Homo sapiens: one gene and its partner. The protein of the gene in region 2 purifies or fractionates together with the protein of the main gene of each other region. This does not show direct contact. Each region holds a gene or a part of one and is shown on either strand. Other genes may lie near its edges.

Evidence for each region. The genes of interacting proteins can lie anywhere in the genome.
Region 1: the proteins of WDR5B (region 2) and RPIA purify together in Homo sapiens (affinity purification with mass spectrometry; 2 studies listed by BioGRID and IntAct, with this or other methods). This does not show direct contact.

What each region holds. Positions count from the first base shown.
Region 1 is NC_000002.12:88,694,673-88,701,672, reverse strand, and holds part of RPIA (ribose-5-phosphate isomerase), read right to left. Parts: intron 3,190-7,000; coding exon 3,129-3,189; intron 1,665-3,128; coding exon 1,609-1,664; intron 1-1,608. UniProt on the Homo sapiens protein: Catalyzes the reversible conversion of ribose-5-phosphate to ribulose 5-phosphate and participates in the first step of the non-oxidative branch of the pentose phosphate pathway.
Region 2 is NC_000003.12:122,412,932-122,420,960, reverse strand, and holds the start of WDR5B (WD repeat-containing protein 5B), read left to right. Parts: upstream 1-4,898; 5' UTR 4,899-5,432; coding exon 5,433-6,425; 3' UTR 6,426-8,029. UniProt on the Homo sapiens protein: May function as a substrate receptor for CUL4-DDB1 ubiquitin E3 ligase complex.

The DNA of each region.
Region 1 (7,000 bases), on a different chromosome or scaffold from region 2:
TTGGCTCAGAATAAAATTAACTTTGACTTAAATCTATAGTGGCTGTTAGAATATCCAATCACCTAAAAGAGCTAAAAGTATGTCCATGTAAAGAGCAAGAAATAGTGGAGGTCAGGGGTGGGAGGTAATAAGAGTGTGCTTTCTAGGTAGTGGTCATCTAGGGGAAAGTGAGGGTAGTGTGCTTTTTTTTCTTTTAAATAAAAAGACTTGAATTATTTGTTTCTTCAATCCACGTGCATATATAACTTTAAAAATAAACACCAATGTAATTTATTAACTAAGAAATAAAAATACTTGATGATCAAGCCAGTTGGAAAAATTAGATACTTAGCTTTTCAAAAGACTAAGAAAATCCATCACAAGCCACTGAGGCTTTAAAAGCATTGCCTCAAGAAAGCAGGATTTAAAAAAAAAAAAAAAAAGCTATATAAAACACTTAAGATATTGCCTTCAGTCCCCTGGGTGGCCATCCACCTTGTTTAAGGTCTCCAAGAGATTTAACATCAAGGAAGCTCCAACAGTATGCACTATCCAACTCCCTAACCTGTCTACCTGGAATCTCTGCCTTACACCCTACTGTTAAGCTGAGGCCAGTCTGGTTTAGAAGGAACCTTAACCTCTCTCCCTTCACCAGAGCTGGTTGCAGGCTGCCAGCATCCTGTGTCTCCAGGATTGGGAGGGTTTCCTAAGAAACCCAGCTATCCAAGCCTAAGTCCATAAAGTCCCAGGAGCATCAGTCACTCATAAATCTCATCTCCTACCCCAGTGCATAGTATCATCTTGACTAATCCAGCGAGAGATTATACACATACTCCTCCCTGCAATGGCCAGATGAGGGATGACAATTGGCTCCATCTGAGCAACTGTCTTCCCTTCCACTTCCCAAAACCTCTCTTCCCTTATCTCTCCCTATATTTAACTGGCTCCACTGCTTTCCTCCATCAGCTCCTACTATTTTATGATGTACTTGCATTACCAACACATTGCTTAATTCCTTTTAGCCTGATTTTTTTTTTCTTGAGACAGGGTCTCACTCTGTTGCCCAGGCTGGAGTGCACTGGCACAATCACAGCTCACTGCAGCTTGGACCTCCTGGGCTCAAGGGAGATCCTCCCGCCTCAGCCTCCTACATAGTTGGAACTACAGGTACAAGCCACCACACCCAGCTAATTTTTGTATTTTTTGTAGAGGCAGGCTTTCACCATAATGCCCAGGCTGGTCTTGAACTCCTGTGCTCAAGTGATCTGCCTACCTTGGCCTCCCAAAGTACTTGAGATTACAGGCATGAGCCACCACACCTGGCCTAGCCTGATTTTTTTCACCTATAAATAGGAGTAATATTCCTTGAGGAGAGAGACTACCGGGCCATCTCTGCATTCTCCGTAGTGCCTAAACTCAACATGCACTGAAATATTCACCAAGTGATTAAACAAATGCACCTAAAACTACAATTCCAAGAAGGAATCCTTGGTCAATAAACTCTCCTATTCCTGGACTCTCTGACCTAGAACAACCTTGAGGTACAAGACAAGGCCATAGGTCCACAACCCCGGGGAACCAGAAGATACAGCAGAAGCTGTCACGATGCAGATGGAAAGCAGGACATACCTGGAAGGAAGTGGGAATACAGACGAGGTTCAGATTCTCTTGCTTCACCCTTTCAGCTGTGGAAACAAAAGCCATATTGGCAGTTTTTCACTCTCCTTACTTTATTCTTCTTGTCATATGTGTTTGCTCGAAACCAACAGACAAGGGAAGGTCTATTTCCCAAAGACAGCTGCCTTTCATCCTGTGTCCCCCTCCTTGGTGGGAAAGTTGGTGACTGTACCTCACACATCAGAAGATAGGGACACAAGAAAGCCTGGAGAGGTAAGTACTGACCACAGAAAGCAGTGTCAGTGTTTGCCATTGTTATGTGCCTGACAATATTCTAAGAACTTTGTATATATGAACTCTTAATCCTAACAACCCAAAAGGTAAGTTAAATTATTTTCCGCATTTTGCAGATAAGGCAACTGAGGTTCAGAGAGGTAATGTAACTCGGTAGTTATACTGCTAATAAGGGACACAGCTGGGACATGATCCCAGGCCATGTAGCCACACAGTCTTAACTCCCCTATATTGCCTCTTCTAGGAAAAAGCCAGAACTTTACTTTTGCATTTTAGTAAAAAACATACTTATTTGTAGGCCCCAGAGAGTAGCTAAAGGAGATTTATTTTTTCAATTTGGATTTGTACCTTTCAGGAAAGTTTGATTTAAAAAAAAAAAAAAGACTTCAGGAAAAAATTCGTATTAAAATTTCAAGTCTTTTTAATCACTGAGTGCATCTTGGGAGGTTTGGGTGCCACTATTATAAAATCCATAGTAACTCCTGTGCCCTGAAAGTATTCTCCAGATACTTGGTTAAGATTGAAAGGTATATAACACAAAAGCTCCTATTTGGCCAGTGAGAAGGCTTCCAGAAGCCATCACACCAGCACTAAAACCACTCCTTGATAACAAAGTGTTCCTGGACTTTACCTCCTGGGCTCTGCCCCTTGGCACCTAGAAGAATTCAGCATTCAGGCAGGCCTCTCCTCTGGGCTTTGTTCTTACAAACAAAGAGCAGGGAAGTAAAACCTGTTGAGCAGCCATAGGGGCTGATAATTCCTGAGTCTTTCCTAAGCATAGAGACACCCTAATCAGTGTGAAATGAGCACCTGCAGGAACCAGCCATCAATGGCAGGAGTCCCACATCCACTCCAGGGTCATGGACAGGGCAAACCCACTATGGCCTCAATTATCTGCCTGAGGAAGTCTGAGCTCACGCAAAGAACTCAATGGTAGAATGCCATCAACATGATTAAAATTATATTGGGACCTCAAGCTAAGTCAGCTCCTCCCCTCCAGCTGAGCAGAGTAAACAAAGGCAAGGGCGTCCTTCAAAGTTGGATGAAGAGGCCCAAGATTCCCTCTCTCCACAAAAGAGCAGAAACACTCAACTGACCTCAGGTAGTCCCTCTCTCCAGCTCTGTACTGCTGAAGCCAAAAGGGCAATGCCAAACCTGTGTGCCACTTCCTCCCTCTCCTCTACCTCCCTACCCCATCATCACACACAAAACATCCAGTAGACAGTGAGAGAGCATACCTATTCGCTGCACAGCATGGACAATTGTAGAACCACTTCCAATTCCCAGCACTTGGTTATTCTGCCAAAAAACGGGGAAGAAAAAACAAAACTTATTAATATCATATTTTACTCCTTTGTCAGCCTACTTCCTAAAGCTATAAAATTATTATGAACAGCAATCCACCAACACAGGTACAAGACAGGTACTGTGCCTATTTTATAGGAACATAAACAATGAACCTCAATGCTGTACTTTAGCCAATCCATGGTGGACAAATGTTCAACAAGGCCCTCCTCTCTTCATTTCTGACACTGTCAACACCACCGCTTCCTCCCTACATTCTACCAAATAATTGGTGCAATTACTTGCAACTGAATAGCAACTTGCGTCACCCTCACAGAAATGGCCTGCATATAAACACTTAAAGATTCCTGACATTTCAAGCCAGCAACAGTGTGTTTAAAAAAAAAAAAAAAAGAAAGAAAGAAAGAAGAAGAAGAAAGAAAAGAAAAAGATTCCTGGCCAATCCCAGGGAGGCAATTAGAAAAACACCTAAGAAAAAACAATAGAGCCTGGAGCCTGGGTAAGGGAGGAAAGCTAAGGCTTCTGGCTTCAGTGTCTTCCATAGGCACCTTCAAGTTGGTAGCACCACAAGACACATCAGGCCCACCATCTAGAGCTCTCCCAAAGTCAGCAGATAAAGGGAGGGCCTGAAGTAACCTCAAAATAATAAAGTATGTCAGCATCTGCCTAGGTGACACCAAGGGGTGCTCATTTTGCATGAGCCTGCCTCAGAGAAAATGGAAAGAGGGCAAAGGCTTAGTTAAGAACATGAAAAATAGTCTTCATCTGCAATAGAAAGGATCATAATAAATGCAGAGCACTTCCTGAGTACAAAGTACAGGCAGACATCACAATACGGAGCCTACCTACAAGCAGACCAAACAAGAAGAAACAAAGAAGGTACCTACAAGCAGACCAAACAAGAAGAAACAAAGAAGGTACCTGCAAGCAGACCAAAGAGTAAAAGCTCAGCTGAGTCTACTAGACCACAAAGAGCAAAACGAGGCCAGGGTACTAACAGTCAGGAACTAATATGCAGCTCAGTGCCTAAGCAACTTCCTGACATCTATCTCCTGCCTTTGCAAGGCAAAGCCAAGTGAACACCAAAGCGGCAGCTACCATTTATTAAGCACCTACCAAGAAGACTTATAAATGTTAATATAAAGCCAAATCTCACAACAATCACTTATGACCTACAGAGCCACTATTTCCACTTTATAGATGAGTTCAATATTGTAAGGAAAAACTTAAGACTTTGAAATGAGCAAAAGAGACTACTGGATATCCTTCCAATGGGATGCTGGAACCTGCTTGTATTGTCTGACTCTAAGAAGGTATGTGCCTTTGTCTTTAAGATATATGACGACTGTATAGAGATACACTTTAACTTGCAGAAAACTGTTAACAAAGCAAGTAAGTTTTGTTCATTGAAATGCAAATTAATAGTGTTCTGTGAGACACAATTATTAACAGATCTTCTAAATTCATTTTAAGATTTTTTTACTACATATGAGCTTACAGTTGACTTCTCCTGTTATGCTTTGAACATCTCCACCAAAACTCACGTTGAAATTTAATTGCCATTATAACAATATTAAGAAGTGGGACCTTTAAGAGGTGATTAGGTCAGAGGGCTCCACCCTCATGGGTAGGATTGGTGCCCACCCATAGCACTTCAACATCTGTCTCTCTCACCAGATGCCAACGCCTTGATATTGGACTTCGTAGCCTCCAGAAGTATAAGCCAAAACATTTCTGTTCATTATAAATTACTCATTCTCAGGTATTCTATTATAGCAGCACAAAATGGACTAAGACACCTATGAACAGGTTCTAATAACCTTTCCAGTTCCCTCATTAATTTAGTGAGTTAAATAAAATCTTTGACATATATTTGTTTTATATATGTGTGATTTTACCTGTTTTAAATATATATACAAGATATACAATATATCTTGTATATATGTTTATAATATATATAAACTATCAATGCCCCCCCACACACACACAAACTCATCTTCAAACTCCTGGGCTCATACAATCCTACTGCCTCAGCTTCCCACATAGCTAGTACTATGGGAACATGCCACCATGCCCAGCTAATTTTTTTAATTCTTTTAAAAGACACAGTCTCACTCTGCCAACCAGGCTAGTCTCGAACTCCTGGCCTCAAGTGATCATCTCACCTCTGCCTCCCAAAGTGCTGGGATTACAGGATGAGCCATTTCAATCGAATAAGCAACTTCAGGAAGTTCAATTCGCTGAAACATCAATCTATTTCAAATTTCTTAAGATTTCCAACAACTGATTAACAATTAATTTATTTGACAAAGGAAAGCCCATAGTAAAACCTTCTTTTTAGGAAGAAGACAAGTCCTGAAGGGCCCTCAGGACAAGCAGGGCCACAACTAAAATCCTTCATTCCCCACAGGACAAAGGCCATAGGAATACTTAAAGTCAGCCCCTAGGCCTCACATTAGATATGGTCCTTCTCAAAGCCTGACTACATCTATAACTAGAAAAGATTAGAAAGAATGACCAACAAGTAGAGTTACCAAAAAAAAAAAAATCAAATACTAATGTCCCCACAACCATATACATATATACTAAAAATGCTACTATAGCCTCTCCTACCTACAGAAGACTTTATCCAACAACTTTTGTGTTATTGACCTGGTGGAAACTGCTTTTACTAGCTCACAGTTCCAAAGGCACTGAATACATCAGGGGCTTGGGCTGTCAGAACAGGGCTCGCACTAGGTCAGGATTCCACCTATACCAATGCTCTCAAGAAGGCAATGTGTGTAGTAAAGTTGTTTAGCTACCTGGACAATCCCCAAAGGCAAGGACTTCAAGACAAGTAAATGATACATCACAGTACAGAAACATTCAAAATGGCTAAATATCTCACATATAAAAATCTTCAAGGAATGAGAAAATGTCTTATCAAGGCCTATGTCTGAGTGTGGAAAAACTCAAACTTTTTCCTCTGCTCTCACACCACAACAATCATCAACACAGAAGACTTCTGTGATCAAATGTATGGGGATTTCTCCCCGTATCCCAAGCAAGCAATCTACTCTGCAGCAGACACCAGCTGGGTATCCTCCAATTCAATTTCAACACTCTCTACCTGGAGATACCATAAGGTTCCACTGGTTGAGGGCTCAGCTCCCAAGATTGCCTCCTCCTTCCTACCAAATGCAAGTCCAGGCCTCCAGAACTTCTGACTTGACAGCTTCAAGTTGGAGTTTCCACAACACTCTCTTTGGGTTTGATTAACTTGCTAGAGTGGCTCACAGAACTCAGGGAAAACATGTTTACCAGCTTATAAAGGCTATGATGAAGGATATGGATGAAGAGATGCATAGGTAAAGGCATGTAAGAAGGAGCACAGAGCTTCCATGCTCTCTCTAGGCACACCATCCTCCAGGGACCTTCACATGTTCTGCTCTCCAGAAGCTTCCAAACCCTGTCCTCTCGAGCTTTTCTTTTTCTTTTTCTTTTTTTTTTTTTTTTGAGACTTTATTGAATAGGTATGATTGGCTCTTGGAAAAGACCAGGAATTGCAAGGGCCTAGAAATGTGACTGAACAAAAAGGGCATGATCCAATACTAGCAGACTGACTGGGGAAACCCTGCAACGGCTGTCTGTTCAGATTCTTCTTCACCTGCAGCATTCCTTCCTCCAGGGTATGGAACAGGAACCCTTCTGAAATGGGGATCTTATGACGTACAAACAGACAACATAGGTCACAGAATTTCTTTACAGCCAGCTCCAAGACAGAAAAGCATTGGGGAGAGAAAGGAGCAAGTGGAAGGAGGGA
Region 2 (8,029 bases):
AATTAGCCAGCCATCGTACCACAAGCTTGCAATCCCAGCTACTCAAGAAGTCGAGGCAGGAGAATCGCTTGAATCCGGGAGGTGGAGGTTGCAGTGAGCCAAGATTGCACCACTGCACTCCAACCTGGCTGACAGAGCAAGACTCCATCTCAAAAAAAAAAAAAAAAAAAAAAAAAAAAATCACTGGGTTTACAAGTTTATTAAAGATAGCTTGAATGATTGTTGCCCCATTTCACTTGCATTTTGAAGGAGTCATTGTTTTCTCTAATTTTAAATTAATATACAGTCATTTCTGTGTTTTTTTGCAGAAAGTAAAATTACTCATTCTTATTCATATCCACTTAACCTGCAGAAGGCCAATGTAGTCCGCTGGGAGTCCTCAATAAGGATCACTGCTTTACCCATCACTTGGGCTGGGCATTATTAAGATACAGTGATGGGTAAGGAGAAAACAGAAACGCAAAAGACCGTAATGGGTGGTGAGAGAACAGTACCAGGTTTGGGAGAGACCTGCGCAGGCTGAGGTGTAAACTACCAGAGTGTGAAATGGTTGCAAGATTAAGTTACGATTATGAGGAGTGTCCTCTTGGGAAGTCAAAAGTAGTGTCTGCTGGGCACAGCCCCAGTTTACATTTGGAGATCAGCTAACACCTGTGAATTATTTTACTGCCCCCTTTCACTTTTAAAAATGTCCCAGTTTAGATAATGTTACGTGGCCACTCCATATTTATAAAGCCCAACTAGATTTTCATACATTGGCTAATGGTCTTAAGCAACTAGGTATACATAGTTCTATTAATGCTTGATATTGAGACTGGATTTGGTAGTCAAGAATTGCTATGAAGGATGTTGAGACATTCCTTAATGTGGGAATCACTCCCATGCCACGGTTTGGTCCAGCACACATACAAAAAAAAAATTGTTTTTAAATTTAAAAATTGCCCCATTTGTGGCAACACATCTGTTTAGATATTTACAATACTGAGGGGCAAGGGAAACACACCTTTAAACTATATTAAGATAAGAGACTTTCATTTCTTTTTTTTTTTTTTTTTTTTTTTTTTTTTTGAGACGGAGTCTCGCTCTGTCGCCCAGGCCGGACTGCGGACTGCAGTGGCGCAATCTCGGCTCACTGCAAGCTCCGCTTCCCGGGTTCACGCCATTCTCCTGCCTCAGCCTCCCGAGTAGCTGGGACTACAGGCGCCCGCCACCGCGCCCGGCTAATTTTTTGTATTTTTAGTAGAGACGGGGTTTCACCTTGTTAGCCAGGATGGTCTCGATCTCTTGACCTCATGATCCACCCGCCTCGGCCTCCCAAAGTGCTGGGATTACAGGCGTGAGCCACCGCGCCCGGCCTTCATTTCTAAGATGTCTGGGAAATTTAAAGAAATCTAGTTGATTTCTGTAGGGAGGAAACTTCCAAAGCACTTAGATGGTAAAGATTAAGGGCAGCAGAAATAGAAACTGTTAATGAGACCATGTAAGAAATTTTGCTTGGTCAACCCGGGCAATGTAGTGAAACTCTGTCTCTACAAAGGGTTGTTGTTGTTTTTTTTTTTTTTGAGATGAAGTCTCGCTCTTGTCCCTCAGGCTAGAGTGTGATGGCACAATCTCGGCTCACTGCAACCTCCGCCTCCTGGGTTCAAGCGATTCTCCTGCCTCAGCCCCCTGAGTAGCTGGGATTACAGGCGCCTGCCACCACGCCCGGCTAATTTTTGTATTTTTAGTTGAGAAGGGGCTTCACCATGTTGGCCAGGCTGGTCTAGAACTCCTGACCTCAGGTGATCCACCCGCCTCGGCCTCGCAAAGTGCTGGGATTACAGGCGTGAGCCATAGTGCCCAGCCAACAAGGTATTTTAAAAAGTAGCCGGGCATGGTGGCGGGTGCCTGTGGGAGGCTGAGGTGGGAGGATCGCCTGAGCCCTGGCAACGCTGCAGTGAACTGAGATGGCACCACTGCACTCCAGCCTGGGCGACAAGGGCAAAACTCCGTCTCATAAATAAATTAATAAGTAAATAAGAAACCCAAAATGCGTATCTCTTATTCTGCCACTTTGGATTTACCTACATGTATCAGTATTCAGCAAAACTCCGTCTCATAAATGAATAAATAAGGAACCCAAAATGCAAATCTCTGTTCTGCCACTTCGGATTTACCTGTATCAGTATTCCGTGCTCCTGCACCGAAATGTCGCTGATCCTCCCAAGCAAGTAAACTGAAAATCTTAGTTCTAATTTCCTAAGGACTACAATGTTAGGACTACATGTTAATATCAGAACATGAATGAATAAACAATAGAACATAACTAGTTATATTCGCCAGGCGCGGTGGCTCACGCTTGTAATCCCAGCACTTTGGGAGGCCGAGGCGGGCGGATCACCTGAGGTCGGGAGTTCAAGACCAGCCTGGCCAACATGGAGAAACCCTGACTCTACTAAAAATACAAAATTAGCCGGGCATGGTGGCGCATGCCTGTAATCCCAGTTACCCGGGAGGCTGAGGCAGGAGAATCGCTTGAACCAGGGAGATGGAGATTGCAGTGAGCTGAGATCGCGCCACTGCACTCCAGCCTGGGCAACAAGAGCGAAACTCTGTCTCAAAAAAAAAAAAAACTAGTTATATTCATAGCCTTGATTTTGTTTGCATATGTTCCTAATGCTATTTGTAAACAAATCCCAGACATCAAGAAATGGATTTTGTTAATAGGAATTTCTTCAGATTTTAGGAAAATCTGAAGAAAAATAACTTCCGGATCTTCCTATCAACACATCCTTTATTGTGTCCCCCCCTCTCTCTTGCTTGTGATAGCTGTGGTGGGCTAAATATATTCCAGCACTAATACCCTATCCTAGCCTTCATGTCAAGTGTTCACGATTCTTAAATTTTACTCTTCTAGTGCATACAACAGTTACTGGAAAATGCAGATTTAAATTATTTGAAACAATGATTAAATTCTGCTCCTGTGCTCCAAGGGGCTTTTACGTTACCTTTTATTGAGTTAATAAAAATGGAAATAGTTTTCAATTGGTGCAGTTTCTAAACTTCTCAGCAAAAATCACTAATCCAGGCTAATGGGAAGAGAAAAGCAGCAGCAGGGTTTAGTTAGAACTGAACTTTAAGATATGCTGAAGGAAAAAAAATTTCTAAAAGTGTTAACAAGGGGAGGTCCATGGAGACCTTAATAGCTAAAAACCGTTGTAATTTAATGTATAGAAATAAATACTCTAAACCATTTTAGAGTCTTCATTCTCAGGACTACCTCACTGTGTTTATACAGTTAATATGCACTAGCTAAGACTAAAGTATTTGTCCAATTCTTATTTAAATTTCCCCCTAGACTGGTAGGGTCTTAAAGTAATGATATTTTAACTACAGTCGGTTTATTACAGGTGACCTAACGGTGCCTGTTGTGCCTTATAAAGGCCAAGACTTTCAATTATCCCTAATAAGTATACAATAGGATACCCATTGTTTCCAAGTGCTTTTAAATTCTTGACGCTGATGAGACATTTGCATCGTGACCAGCCACCAGTAAAATCTTTTAAGCCACGTTTTTTCTGCTTTTCTTGGGCACTCTTTTTTTTTTTTTTTTTGAGACGGAGTCTCACTGTTGCCCAGGCTGGAGTGCACTGGTGGAATCTCAGCTTACTGCACCCTCCACCTCCTGGTTCATGCCATTCTCCCACCTCAGCCTCCTGAGTAGCTGGGACTACAGGCGTGCGCCATCACGCGCAGCTAATTTTTGTATTTTTAGCAGTATTGGTTGCGCCATGTTGGTCAGGCTGGTCTCGGACACCCGACCTAAAGTGTCCCGCCCGACTGGGCCTCCCAAAGTGCTGGGATTACAGGCGTGAGTGCTCGGCCTCGGGCACTCTTTACTGAGCAACAACAGGTTGGAGAAACTAGTAGGGCTTCCAGTTTTTTGGTAAACCTATTGTTTAAAAGTCTGCCTGGTCATCAGATTCCAGTCGTCTTGTTTCTGCCTCAGATGATAAAACTCTAAAATTATAGGATGTGAGATCTGGAAAATGTTTGAAAACACTAAAGGGGCACAGTAATTATGTCTTTCGTTGCAACTTCAATAGCATGTATATTTTACACACTTTCATGACCATTAATCATCTCCTAAAACTGGGGAAAGCTCTCTAAAACCTCCTTAAGAGTAACCTTATCCGTTACCCTATTCCACCAACCTCTTTGTCCTTTTCTGTTTCAAGCAACTTTGAGATACCGACTTCTCTATGGAAGCTTAAGCCGTAGATGCTAAAACAAACGTTTGCTCGTTACTCCCAGCAGAGCACCGGCTTTTAAAGGACCTCAACAGACACGTTTCTTAACCTTTACGAAACTTTTCCAGGGGAAACTTAAACCAGGAATTTTACAATCTGGCATAAATTCTGTCACCCGCCCCGTGACTCCATCGCCACACATGCCACCTGGCTCCACACCACAACAAACAGGAGGGAGCGGAACCCATGCAAAGCAGGAGCTTCCCCCGTTTCCGGCGTCTGGGTGGATCTACGTTAGCTGCCGTTTAGGCAGCTTACGCGTCAGGTGTGGGCCTAAGCCTGCAGCTAAGGTAGGCATCCGCAAATCTAGTCCTTCTCTGTGACAATTTCCAAAAAGAAATGGTTTTTGAAACAACGATCCACTGCTTCCCACACTATCCAGTTAGGTCCGGGACAGACCCTACCCAGCTAATGCACTCACCCAAGAAGGCAGTCGCTTTCGCATTTGAAGGGCGGGGCGAAAAAGACCGGAAATGAACATTGGCGACTTTTTTGCGCAGGCGCAGATGGCCGTCTCCCATTGGTCATCTCGGCTCGGTAGTGGTAGGAGGGACTTCCTTTGCACATGCGCCAGGCTGCTTTTCCGGCTTTGTTGGAGATTGACGCGGCAGTGCACACCTGCTGGTACGAGCAAAAGTAGCCGACAGGCCAGAGTTTCCAGTTTCGGTGGCTTCGTAGGCTTTTAGCTTCTGAAATCCGCTAAAAGCGGCGGTTCATTCATCTTCAAGTACCTAGCCTGACTGGTAGGGCTGCTCAGCATTCCGAAACATTTCGACCTGGGGAGGGGGGCGGCGGTGAAAGAATACTTTCTGTAGAGAGTGCCCCTCGCGTCGCCCCTGCTTTGAAGGCTTTATGTATTAACGGAATGCCGAACATTTGTGTCCTACTTGCTGACAGCGCACAGGATCCTTCTAACAGTATTTCTCAAGTACTTAACAAAAAGATGAAAACTTGAAGTCCAAGCCGTGCTGCTGATTCCGTCTCACAGTTTAAAGACTGTCCAGAAACTTTAAGCTTTCAAAACTGTACATTTTAAAATCCTGTGCGTTTATCTTCATTTTGCTGGGCAGAAAGCCAAAGTACTGGACTGCCTGGTTCAGGGCTGAACGCCTAGTACACCTGCTAACTTGGAGCTTCAGAGCCATGGCAACCAAGGAGTCAAGAGACGCCAAAGCACAGTTGGCCCTCTCCTCATCGGCCAATCAGAGCAAGGAAGTGCCTGAAAACCCAAACTATGCTCTCAAATGTACTCTTGTGGGACACACGGAAGCAGTGTCATCAGTTAAGTTTAGTCCTAATGGAGAATGGCTAGCAAGTTCTTCTGCTGATAGGCTAATCATAATTTGGGGAGCATATGATGGAAAATATGAGAAAACACTCTATGGTCATAATTTGGAAATATCGGATGTTGCCTGGTCATCAGATTCCAGTCGTCTTGTTTCTGCCTCAGATGATAAAACTCTAAAATTATGGGATGTGAGATCTGGAAAATGTTTGAAAACACTGAAGGGGCACAGTAATTATGTCTTTTGTTGTAACTTCAATCCGCCATCCAACCTTATAATCTCGGGATCTTTTGATGAGACTGTAAAAATATGGGAGGTGAAAACAGGAAAGTGTCTCAAGACTTTGTCTGCTCATTCTGACCCAGTTTCTGCTGTTCATTTTAATTGTAGTGGGTCCTTGATAGTGTCAGGTAGCTATGATGGCCTCTGTAGAATCTGGGATGCTGCATCAGGTCAGTGTTTAAAAACGCTCGTTGATGACGATAACCCTCCTGTCTCTTTTGTAAAATTTTCTCCAAATGGTAAATACATTCTCACTGCAACTTTGGACAACACTCTTAAACTATGGGATTATAGCAGAGGCAGGTGCCTGAAAACATACACTGGTCATAAGAATGAGAAATATTGCATATTTGCCAATTTTTCAGTTACTGGTGGAAAGTGGATTGTGTCTGGTTCCGAGGATAACCTGGTTTACATTTGGAACCTTCAGACTAAAGAGATTGTGCAGAAATTACAAGGCCATACAGATGTTGTGATCTCAGCAGCTTGTCATCCTACAGAAAACCTCATCGCATCAGCAGCATTAGAAAATGACAAAACAATTAAACTGTGGATGAGTAACCACTAATCCCTTTGAAAATCAAGTAGTAGAGCCAAGTTGGCCAAAAAACTTGGATATTTAAAAAGACGGTTTCTTTTAATTTTGGCAGTTTGGTATTTTAAAAATTGTCTATTGTTAAATTTTGAGATTCATACACTACATTTACAAAATGAGATAGTTGAAAAAGCACATCTAGAATTCAGCTTCTGACTACCAATCTTTTTTGAGCAACTTTTTGTAATTTTTATGGATTTATGTCACTTTTATTACAGGGATATATTGCATAGTGGTGAAATCTGGGCTTAGTATACCCTCACCCAAATAGTATACATTGTACCTAGTAAATACTTTCCCATCTCTCACCCCACTCCCACCTTTGAAGGCTCTAGTGTCTATGATTCTGCTCTCCACGTCCAGGTGTACACATTGTTTATCTCCCACTTACGAGAACATGTGGTTTTTGACTTTCTGTATCATTACTTCACTTAATGGCCTCCAGGTCCATCCATGTTGTTGCAAAAGATAAGATTTCATTATTTTTTTTTGGCTGAGTAGTATTCTGTGGTGTGTATGTGTGTGTGTGTATGCATATATGTGTATGTGTATGTATATAAGTATATACACCACATTATCCAGTCATCTGGATATGTATATAAGTATATACACCACATTTTCTTTATCCAGTCATCTCTTGATGGACCCTTAGGTTGGTTCCATAACTTTGCTATTACGAATAGTGCTGCGATAAACAGCACTATTATGAATAGTGCTGCGATAAACAGTGCAGGTGATTTTAAAATATAATTTCCTTTGGGTAGATACCTACTAGTGGGATTGCTGGATCGAATGGTAGTTTTTAGTTGGAAAATCTCCATACTGTTTTCCAGAGGTTGTAAAATGTACATTCCTCCCCACAGTGTATAAGCTGTGCCTTTACTCTGCATCTTTGCCATGATTCTTTTTGAGACAGAGTCTCTGGTGCCCAGGCTGGAGTGCAGTGGCACAATCTTGGCTCACTGCAACCTCTGCCTCCCGGGTTCAAGCAGTTCTCATGTCTCAACATCCCAGGTAGCTAGGATTACAGGCGTGCCACCATGCCTGGCTAATGTTTCTATTTTTAGTAGAGACAGGGTTTCACCATGTTCGAGGCTGGTCTTGAACTCCTGGCCTCAAGTGATCCACCTGCCTCGGCCTCCCAAAGTGCTGGGATTACAGGCATGAGCCACTGTACCCAGCCATTTTTTGACTTTTTAATAATAGCCATTCTAACTGGTTTAAGAGAGTATCTCATTGTGGTTATATTTTGTATTCCTCTGATGATTAGTGATGTTGAGCATTTTTTTGTGTGTGTTTGTTGGCCACTTGTATGTCTTCTTTGAAAACTGACTTCTAATCTTGAGGCCTATTAATAATTTCATTTGTCTGTCACTGGACAATTTCTCATTCCTCTCAGTGACTATCCTAGAGGATCAGTGTATTTGAGAAATATTTAGAAGTAAAGTTGACAGGACAGGATGATTGATTAAAAGAGGGGAGCAAGGGAATTTGAAATAATTCCAGGGTTTCTGGTTTGGGAGATCAGATGAACAAGTGCATAAGCCTGGGATGCTGGTGGAGGACTGGAGAGACAT